2 separate regions of the Homo sapiens genome follow, and region 1 is linked to region 2. Evidence: fine-mapped expression QTL. A gene starts in region 2. The other region holds a variant in brackets. All regions are shown on one strand. Distances are between the middles of the regions.

Region 1 (5,385 bases), 770 kb after region 2:
GCACCTGCAATATTAACTTCAAAATAATCCAAGGAAGAAATCGATGCATAGAAAAATGACCTATAGAAACCAATTTATAGAGTTTCAAAAAAAGGAGAAAGAGATATGTTTTTAATGTTGAAACATTTCAATGAAAAGTAAGTCCAGATTGAAATTATTTGGGCCTGGCCAACATTTAGATTTAATGATGAAAGTGAAAAATTACTTTAAGTGACAAAAATATAGGAATGCTCAAAATTTCATATCTAAAAGGAAATTTATTTTAATTTGATTTAACCAGGTAAGTTCATGAGTAAAAGGCACTCTGCTAGGCATGGGGTGGGGGAGGGAATACAAAGATGAGTGATATATGTGTCCTATGTCTGGAAGGGTTTAGAATTTAGCAGCACAAAGAAGATATATAGAAATAGCTATGCTATAAAAGGGGCAAAATACTGTGTTATCTCAGAGGATTATAAGCAACTTCTTGGGAGAGGTCAAAATCAACCAAACTCTGGAGCAGTGGAAGGATTTTAACCTATGGAACTGGATGAAGGGAGAAGTCTCTGCAGAGAAGTGTTATGGGTTGAATTGTGTCCCCCAGAAAGATACGTTGAAGTTCTAACCACCAGAATCTGTAAGTGTGTCTTAGTCACACTCTGTAAGTGCACTTATAAGATGATACCATGGCCGGAGTGGCTTATAAACATCAGAAATTTATTTCTCACAATTCTAGAGGCTGGAAGTCCAAGATCAGGATACCAGCATAATCAAGTTCTGGTGAGGGCATTCTTCTGAGTTGCAGACTACCATCTTCTCATATCCTCACAAGCGGAAAGAGGACAAGGAGCTCTCTGGGGTGTCTTTGATGAGGACACTAATTCCATCATGAGGGCTCTACTCTCATGATCTAATTACCTCCCCAAAGCTCCACTTCCTAATACTATTGCACTGGGGGTTAGAATTTCAATCTAAAAATTTTGATGAGGACACAAACATTCAGTGCATACAGAGTGTGACCTCCTTTGGGAATTGCGTTTGCAGATATAATCAAGTTAAGATGAACTCATCTGGATTAGAGCTGGCGTCTTTATAAAAAAAGGGAAATTTGGACACAAATATCCAGGAGAGAAGGCCATGACAAGATAGAGGCAGAGACTGGAGTGATGTATCCACAAGCCAAGGAGCACCTAGGGCTGCAGCAACACCAGAAGTTAGAAGAGGCAAGGAAGGGTTCTTCCCCTAGGGCCTTCAAAGAGAAGATGGCTCTGCTGACACCTTGATTTTGGACTTCCAGCCTCCAGAACTGGGCAAGGCTACATTTCTGTTGCTTGAAAGCACCCAATTTGTAGTGCTTTGTTATGGCAGCCTTAGGAAACTAATGCGAGAGGGAAAAAGATGAGGCCTAGAGGTAGGAAGTGTGGGACTTATTCTGAAAGGTGAAGTTTGGATTGGCTGGAGAGCAGTATGTGTAAAGACCAATTATAGAGATTACGTCTGGGAAAAAAAGGAGCCCAGATGGTGGCATTTGGGGCTTTTATCTGTAGCATATAAAGCACTATTAGGAGAGAGAGTCATGGAAGATTCAGGACATGCTGGAAGAATAGATTGGAAGAAATGGGAGCAGGTAGCAGGTTGCAGTGAAATTTGAGACGAGAGGTGACATGCTGGACAGTGGCAGTGCTCACGGAAAGTAAGTGTTAGATTTGACAGGGGTGGAGGTAGAGTTGATAGAACCTGGAGACTAATTAGGTGAAGAAGGCACAAAAATAATTTTTGAGTCTGGGAGATGGGAAACAGGAAACCCAGGGGGTAGAGTTGGTTTGGAAGAATGTGTTGAGGAGAAAAGTCTAGTTTTTAGTAAATGTTTATGTCCAGCAGAATGCTGGAAATGTGAACTTGCAGTATTTGTTGGGATAGAAATATAGATCTGGGAGCCAGCTGCACTGAGGACATAGTCAATGGCCTGGAAATGGTTGCAATCATCACAAGAGTTGAGTGATCATAAATGGAAGAGTTGAACACTGGGGGAGCACCTCCATTTAGAGGGTGATAGAAGGATGAGGCAAATATAAATTAGAGTTCCAAGAGGGTAGCCAAGATCAATCCAAGTCAAAGAAGCCAAGGATGTGTTTTATGAAGGAGAGGGTGATCAATGACAGAAAATGCTGCAGAGAGATTGAGGAGGACAAGGACTCAGGAGAAGTCATCAGATATAGGGATTAGAATGTCAATAGTAATTTAGGAGAGGACAGTTTCAAATTAATGGTATGAGAGGTCACTTTAAAAGGGTTTAGAAATGATTAAGAGTGAGAGAGGCTAATATTCATGGATTATTCTTTTGGCAGGTTTGGTAATGAAAAGAAGGAGAAAGATGAGCTTTTTGTTGTTCTTGTCATTTTATGGTAGAAAAATATTTAAGTATATTAATATGTAAAAGAGAAGAAACCAGAAATTTGGGAGACTTGTAAAAAACAAAACAGAATGGAATAACTGATGGAACAGGGCTCTGGAAGGAAAAGAGATGGATTTCGACTAAGGAGCAAATTAGCTTTGGAGTTTGCAGATGGGGCAGTTTCCTTTCTGGCACAGGCAAGGAAATAATAGGAGGGGTTGTAAATCACTTGGATGTGGAAGGGGGAAATTGAAGTTCATCTTAGAAAGTCTCATCTCAATAAAGCAGAAAGCAGGTCAACTTGGGAGAGAGATGTATGGGTGAGTGGGCTGCAAGCTTGAGGGATGGGAAAGATGATATCTTTG[G/C]GGAATATGATTGAGAGTAAATAAAAGAATTGCTAACAGGCCTAATTGAGGTGGTAGCAATAGTGCTAATTGACATATTTAATTTTAATTGACAAGACATAACTTTCTACAACAAGGTCTGCCAGCTTAGGAGAAGCATGCAGGTGGAAAAGCAGATGATGAAGAGAGTCCAGTGTTGGTTTTAGGCCTAATTTTCTCCTTAATCCAAATCCATCTCTCTTCCTTCCAGAGGAAGCTCATAATACAAGGGATCCCAGGGCATAGTAAAGGCTAGGTTAGAACAGGCATTTGAAAGGCTTCTTGGGTGAATGTCAATTCCTTGTCCTTCAAAGTAGCCTAAAAGTAGCGAAAGAATAAAGAATAAAGAAAAAATTGTAGGTAAAGGATAAAAATCATGTTCCTTTCTTCCTTCTTTCTTTTAATTTATTCATTCAGCATATAAATAATTTGCCAAATGCCCCTCCATGCCATGGCATGGGAAAGGAAGGCTGCGCATCAGGTCTGTAAGATTAGGTTGCTTACTCTTCAGTGTGTGAAATAACAAGAACAGTACACACTCAGCTTGCACTATCTACCAGGAATTGCTGTAAGTGCCTGTCCACATATTAACCATATTAACTTAGTACTATAACCTTCAAAAGTAGGAACAATTATTTTGCTAATGATATTACTGAACTTCAGGGAAGTTAAGTGACTTGTCAAGGTCACATAGCTAGTTGCCAGCATAGCTGGGGTTTTAGTAAGTCTGGTTCCAGGGTCTGTTCTCTTAATCACTATACTATATGAACTAAAAAGTTTTGAAATGGGTTATAAGTAGGATGATTACATATTCTTCTTTTTTTTTTTTTGAGATGGAGTCTTGCTCTGTCACCCAGGTGAGAGAAATGGCGTGATCTGGGCTCACTGCAACCTCTGTCTCCTGGGTTCAAGTGATTCTCCTGCCTCAGCCTTCTGAGTAGCTGGGATTACAGGCGTATGCCACCACACGTGGCTAATTTTTTGTATTTTTAGTAGATATGGGGTTTCGCAATGTTGGCCAGGCTGGTCTCGAACTCCTGACCTCAGGTGATCCACCCGCCTTGGCCTACCGAAATACTGGGGTTACAGGCGTGAGCCACTGCACCCAGCCAATGATTACATATTCTAATCATTCTGGGATGGTCCAGTTTATGCCTGTTGTCCCAGGAAAAGTATTCATTGTATGCTCTTTCAATAAAAAGTCTGAAGGAGAAGTTACATGGTTACTTTAGTTATAAGAGAAACTGATCAACCACAGGGCTTTTCTTCAAATTCTTCAATGTTGGCTCATGTGATGTATAGAGACTAAGAACTGTAAGGCATTTAAGAAAAATAAATGAAATGGCTCTGCCTTTCTATGACACACTACCTCAAGACCCACAAGAGCCAGCTTCTTTGATTCCCTTGGTCAGATCACAGCCCCTTCCCCAACCCCAGTGGCCTCCATACTTCAACTTCAACCTTACTGGTTTTAATGAAAGGAGAAACACAGAAAGGCACATTCTCTAAGCTACCACCAAGTGGAGTTCTGCACACCTATTCTTTAAGCAGTGTTGGAAATTGAACACACAAAACCCTACAGCAAATCTGTGCACCCATCTCTCTCTTCCTCATCTCCTTTCCTTATCTCTACTCTCAGGCCAGCACTCCACTGTTCATGCCAAACGTCAGGCACAATAACCACATGTCATATAGATGTACAGCCTCAGCCAAAGCTGTTATAGGGCTAACGCCAGACCTTTTGCAGCAATTCTGGCTGTTTTGTGGCTGTTGGTAATGTCTTCATTTCCTGAACTCCTTCTCCTTATTGTTTTTAGGCTCCAGTGAGAAGCAGGGAAATTGGTACTAGCAACGTGGCTCTGGTACCCTATAAGAAAGTGTTGTGCTCTTGTTGTTGCCATATCAGCTTCCTCGGAAGATTTAAAGATGTACACTCAACTCCCTATGGATGATTTTAAAAATGTATCACTAATGGTCACTGATGACAGGCACTTATACATTGGGATTTGGCTCTTACTCTAATGATACTATTTTAAATGCTGCAACGTGCAAAAATGATGGTAATGCCTAGGCCAGAGTAAGCAGAAAATCAGCTCAGCAAACTGAACAGAAGACATTCATCCAGGGCTTCAATATCCTGTCAAGTGACCACTGTTTTGTATGGCTTTATTATTCTCTGAGGTTTTAATATGCTGGTCCACAGAATTCTCTTATTATTTCCTTGACTGCTTTTCTATTGTCTCCTCTGTCTGTCCTGGATCCTCTGTTTTTCCTTCCTCTGAACTCAGTCTTGCAGTGAGTTTATGCATTCATAGTGATTTCAACTACAATTTATATTACAAACAGTTCCAAATACACATCTGAGCTGCCTGATGGGCATTTTACTCTTTCTCTCTTCCTTCCTTGGTAAGCTCGTCCTCTAATATGATTTCAATAGTGGCTAACATTTATCATGTCTCAGGCATGGAGTTAATGCTTGGAACCCTACAAGCAGGGGCGCTTACTATTATCATCTTTGTCCTCCAGAGAAGGATCTAGTAAGTGGTAGAACTGAGATTTGACCCCAGACAGATTTGCTTCAGAACCTGTGCTCTTAACCACCACATTATGATGCCTCCTCACATTCAG
Region 2 (5,385 bases):
GTGGCCTCCAGAAGATGAAAAAGGCAAGGAAACAGATTCTCTCCTTAGTCTAAATCCTGAATTTATACCAGTGGGACCCATTTTGGATTTCTGACCTCCAAAACTCTAAGATAAATTAGTGTTGTTTTACGCCACTACTCATGGCAATTTGTTACAGCAGCAATAGAAAATTAATAGACACACATGTACATACCTCTCTTCTTCCCCCAATTCTAGACAACCACTTTCTTTATAGATTTGCCTATTCTGGATATTTACATTACATAAATGACCATTAAGTCTGGATATAAAACAAAAACAAGTCTCTATTGTTAATTTTATCGGTTTTTAGAAACATGGGAACCCGTATGTTTACTTGGTGAAGAGTTGAGTATATTCTTGGCCAGAAGATGGGAACACTAAAATTAAAAACAAAAAGAGTTGGGAATAACTTATTTTTGTTTTGCAGGGAGTGGAAAGGAAGAAAATTTCCACTCTCATTTGTCTGGAAAGTCTCCCAGAGAGTTTTCAAGATCATTAATAATAATAGCTAATTCACACTGACCTGTCTTCCCAGCCAATGTATCACCTCTAAGGAAATGTATACTTGATATGTTTTGGCTCTGTGTCCCCAGGCAAATCTCATGTTGAATTATGATCTTCAGTGTTGGGGGAGGAACATGGTGGAAGGTGATTGGATCATGGGGGCGGATTTCCCCCTTGCTGTTCTCGTGATAGTGAGTTCTCATGTGATCTGGTTGTTTCGAAGTGTGTTGCGCTTCCTCCTTTGCTGTCTCTCTCCTGCTGGCCATGTGAAGATTGTGCCTGCTTCCCCTTTGCTTTCCACCATGATTGTAAGTATCCTGAGGCCTCCCCAGCCATGCCTCCTGTACAGCCTGTGGAACTGTTAGCCAATTAAACCTCTTTTCTCCATAAATTACCCAGTCTCAGGTATATCTGTATAGCACTGTGACAACGGACTAATACAATACTCATACTCATGTCTGTCACAATCTCTACCATCAAACATAATTACTTTCAAGCTTTGACCATTCCTTAGATTCCAATGGGAACCACCTTTCTTTCTGGTCACCTCACAGCCTAACTATCCAGCTCTCCCTCTAACTCCTACAGTATCTTTAACTGAAGCTATAAGTAATATCAGATCATGATACCCAGAGTATGGTGTATGATCATGGCATATTTACTGTTACTTAATCCTGACTTGAAAATACTAACTTCTCTCCCATATGTCTGAAAATCCCAGCCACAAATAGGCTGAGGCTGTGGTGGAACTTAAGTTTCATGCACAAAGTCATTTTTGCCTTGGCTGCAAAAAAATATGTAGTTAAGCTAAATATTGTGCTGCAGTATCTATACTGACATATAATTCAATATTATTCTCTCCTTGCAGCTGCAAACATACTTAATGATGAAAGACAGAATGTCTTTCCCTCCAAGATTGGGAACATGGCAGGTATGTCTGCTCTTACCACTACTATTTAACATCATATTGGGAGTCTTAGCAAGAGCAAGGCCAGAAAAAGAAATAAAAGGCACATAGGTCAGACACAGTGGCTCACACCTGTAATCCCAGCACTTTGGGAGGCCAAGGTGGATGGATTGCTTGAGGCCAGGAGTTCAAGACCAGCCTGGCCAACATGGAGAAATCGCATCTCTACTAAAAATATAAAAATGAGCCAGGTGTGGTGGTGTGTGCCTGTAATCCCAGCTACTCAGGAGGCTGAGACATGAGAATTGCTTGAACCCGGGAGGTGGAGGATGCAGTAAGCTGAGAATATGCCACTGCACTCCAGCCTGGGTGACAGAACGAGACTATCTCAAAAAAAAAAAAAAAAGAAAAAGAAAAAGAAATGAAATGAAAGACACACAGATTCGAAACTCAGAACAAAACTGTTACTATCTGCAGGCAACATGATTATCTGTATAAGAAGTCCCAAAGAATCTACAAAACAAGCTCCTAAAATTAAAAGTGAGTTCAGACTGGTCACAGTGGCTCACGCCTGTAATCCCAGCACTTTGGGAGGCCGAGACAGGCGGATCGCCTGAGGTCAGGAGTTTGAGACCCGTCTGACCAACATGGTGAAACCCCGTCTCTACTAAAAATACAAAAATTAGCCGGGTGTGGTGGCAGGCACCTGTAATCCCAGCTACTCGGGAGGCTGAGGCAGGAGAATCACTTGAACTCGGGAGGCGGAGGTTGCAGTGAGTAGAGATGGTGCCATTGCACTCCAGCCTGGGTGACAAGAGCGAGACTTCGTCTCAAAAAAACCAAAACAAACTAACAAAAACATAAAAACACTATGGGACAATGGCATTTGTTTGGACACAGGTCTCCAAATCTGCCTCTTCAAAAGAAACAGACACTGCAACTGCAAGAGCCTTGGTTAAAGACTTAAGCCGGCCCCAACTAAGAGTGGGGATGGCTTCCCTAGGAGGTAGGAATCAGCTGGAGTCCTTGCCTCTCCTGGTGCCCAGGCAGTGCCATCTGCAGACACTTCTGTCATCCTCCCATCCTTGGGGGGCTCTTTCTCCAGCTCCAGTTCGTGAGCGGCAAAGCTTGCAGCTGTACAGCCTCCAAGAGCAAACAGCCCAGGTCCCACCCGGCCACAATTGTATAGTGACGCCCTCCCCGTCCCCTTCTTTGAGCTGCGCTCAAAGGACCAGCCTGGACTGCTATGCTGTCTCACTCCCAACCCAAGCTCCGCCCAACTGTGGGTCCTTGCACTTTGGCACCTTTGAGCGCGGACTCAAAACAGGCCAGAAGCGCACCGCTAGCGAGAACGGTTAGGAGGCCGGAAGTGCGTCACGCTTGTGGGGCGCTTGGAGGCCAGAAGTGCGTCATGAGCACGGCTGCTCTTTCTACGGTGCAACTTTTCCGCATCTCGGTGTTTCCGATTGGGAGACATCCTCTTCCTTTCCTTGTACACACTTTTTTCTCTCCTCAGGAACCTCACGCCTGGGTCATTGTCCATTTGGGTGGGTCAAGAAAGCGATCGCTTCTGCCCGGGAGCAGTTGATTGTCAGGAAGGAATTCGTGATAAAACCGCCATCACCACAGGCCTAGATGGTGGCCGGTGTTTCCTGGTTGCTTACTGGTCTTTCTGAGTTCTGGTTCACTCGCAGTGAATCAACTTCCTTTCACAAGCTCTGCCACTCACGGGCCATTGAGGAAGACCCTTGTGTCTCTGAGCAGCTTTTGTCTTCTGTAAAATGAGCCAGTCAGATTATACCATTCAAGCTGTCTTTAATTCCATGCACTGTAACCTCCAATGGTTTGCCACTACCCCTGGAGTCCAAGTCACCATTCAAGGCTCCTCAGACCCTTGCCCTCCTTCCCCTCTAAATGATAAAGAAAATGCCAAAAGCGCAGGGCATATGGGCTAAGAGAGATAGCTCTAAAGTGTTAGTGCCTGTGGCTTTCTGGGTCCACAAAAGAGAACTCTGGCCAGGATTTTGCTGGACTGTCAAAACGTTTGTGATCACTGTCACAGAATTACAAAACAAACTGGGGACTTAGAGCTTCTTAGTCCCATCTCCTTTACAACAGTATGACATAGTGGTAAGGAGCACAGCCTGGCATCAGGATGCTTTGTTTCAAAGGCCAAAGGACCACTCTGTGACCTTTGGTGCATTACTTAACCTGTAAGTGTCACATTTATTTCTAAAACTAGGATAATAATAGTATTTATTCCCCGGATTGTTGTGAGGATTAGATGTTAGTACATGTAAATCAGTACAATGTCTAGCACATACTAAACACTCACTAGATATTAGTAATTATTACACTCACTAGATATTAGCGATTATTAATAGCTTAGGAATTGAGCCTGAATAGGCTCTGGAGTTAATCCAGTATTCAATCTTTTTATTAAAACCTTTGAAAATGGTTATAAACCTCAGTGGGTTTGGGCATCTGTACACTTTTTACTACCAGACTAGATAGTATAAGCAAAGCCTGGTGGCAGTTCAGGGTTGGTTCTTAGAAGATCAGAGTGCTAAAATAGCTAGCTCATCATGAGCTGAGGACTTCCAGGATGACTAGTTGGACTTGCTGTTCAGTTGGGACTTCAGCAACACAAGTCCAGACAAATGGGACCATGATCCAGGTCTTCAAGAGCAACCCTCAGGCTTTCTGCAGAGTGTAAACTCCTCAAGAAAGAGGCTTTTCTATCTTGTCCATGACTGTATCCTGAGTTTCTAGAATAGTGTTTATAACACAGTTCATGATCAATAATCATTTTTTGATGAATAAAGAGTTGGACATATATGATTATACTCCCTTACTATAAGGGAGAGTGGGACAGATAATACAAGCACTCAACGCAGAATGAATCATGAGTAAGAGAAAACCAAGACTCAAAGAGTTTCAGTAAGGCCACAGCATATAATAGGTATCAGAGTTAAGATTTAAACCCTAGATTATTTCCACCATGTCAAACTGGCTTTCCAGAACAATATACTAAGTGGTATTCCAAGTCCCAATACGCCTTTCTATGCTCTCACACCGTGGACACAAGCTTTCTGACCTCAGTCCCTTCAGGAAGAGAGAGAGAGAAGAGCAACAGTAACTGTAAGAGGAAAAATCATCAAATTCTGAAATAAGGGCCAAAGAACCATATAAGATGACACGAGTCCCATTTTACAGATGAGGAAACTGAACACAGAAAGATTAAATAACGTGCTCAAAGTCATGCACAGCTCTTATGTGGCAGAGCCAGAATTCAAACCATGATAGTTTGGCCTCAGTATACACACATAAGCACTCTATCACTGCCTCAGATACGTAGTTCTGTGTCTCATAGTGAAGAAGTTGAAATATGTTAAGCCAAACTAATGTTTCCAAGCCTCCATTTATTAACTGTGATTTGGGGCAAGTTACCTAGATTCTCTGTGCCTTCAATTTTCTCACCTATAAAATGGGTACAATATTAATACCTACTTTGTAGGCTGTTGAGAGGATTAAACAACATGTGAAAATCATTTATTTTCATATCTAACTTATTGTAAACATTCGCTACATTTCTAATTAATTGATTGTTTCATTTTTATTTAGTTTTTTTTTTCTTTAGAGTAGGGGTCTCTCCATGTTGCCCAGGCTGGATTTGCACTTCTGAGCTCAAGTGATTCTCCCCAATCAGCCTCTCAAATAGCTGGGTATATAGGCATGTGCCACTGTGCCCAGATAAGGTATAATTTAAGTTCAGTAAAGAGTACAAATCTTAAGTGTAAAACTTGATGAATATTTATATATGTAACTTCAACCTGATCAAGATATAGAATGTCCCCAGCACCCCAAAAACCTCTCTGTTATACCCCTTCCTAGTTGATAGCCTCCCCAAAATAATCACTATTCTGACCTCCATCACCTTAGCTTTACCTGTT

What was found. PIP is the estimated chance that this variant, and not a neighbour inherited with it, causes the effect. A credible set is the group of variants that fine-mapping cannot tell apart.
Region 1: its variant is the best candidate, but not a certain one, in a credible set for the expression of ZNF19 in aorta (GTEx, PIP 0.90).

What each region holds. Positions count from the first base shown.
Region 1 is chr16:72,257,985-72,263,369 of GRCh38, forward strand. No RefSeq gene overlaps it. Among named protein-coding and RNA genes, the nearest start is that of PMFBP1, 89 kb to the left of the region's middle. The variant G/C (reference allele first, on the strand shown) is at 2,740.
Region 2 is chr16:71,486,536-71,491,920 of GRCh38, forward strand. ZNF19 (zinc finger protein 19) reads right to left here and starts at 2,789. Exons shown (of 6, transcript NM_006961.4): 1 at 2,737-2,789.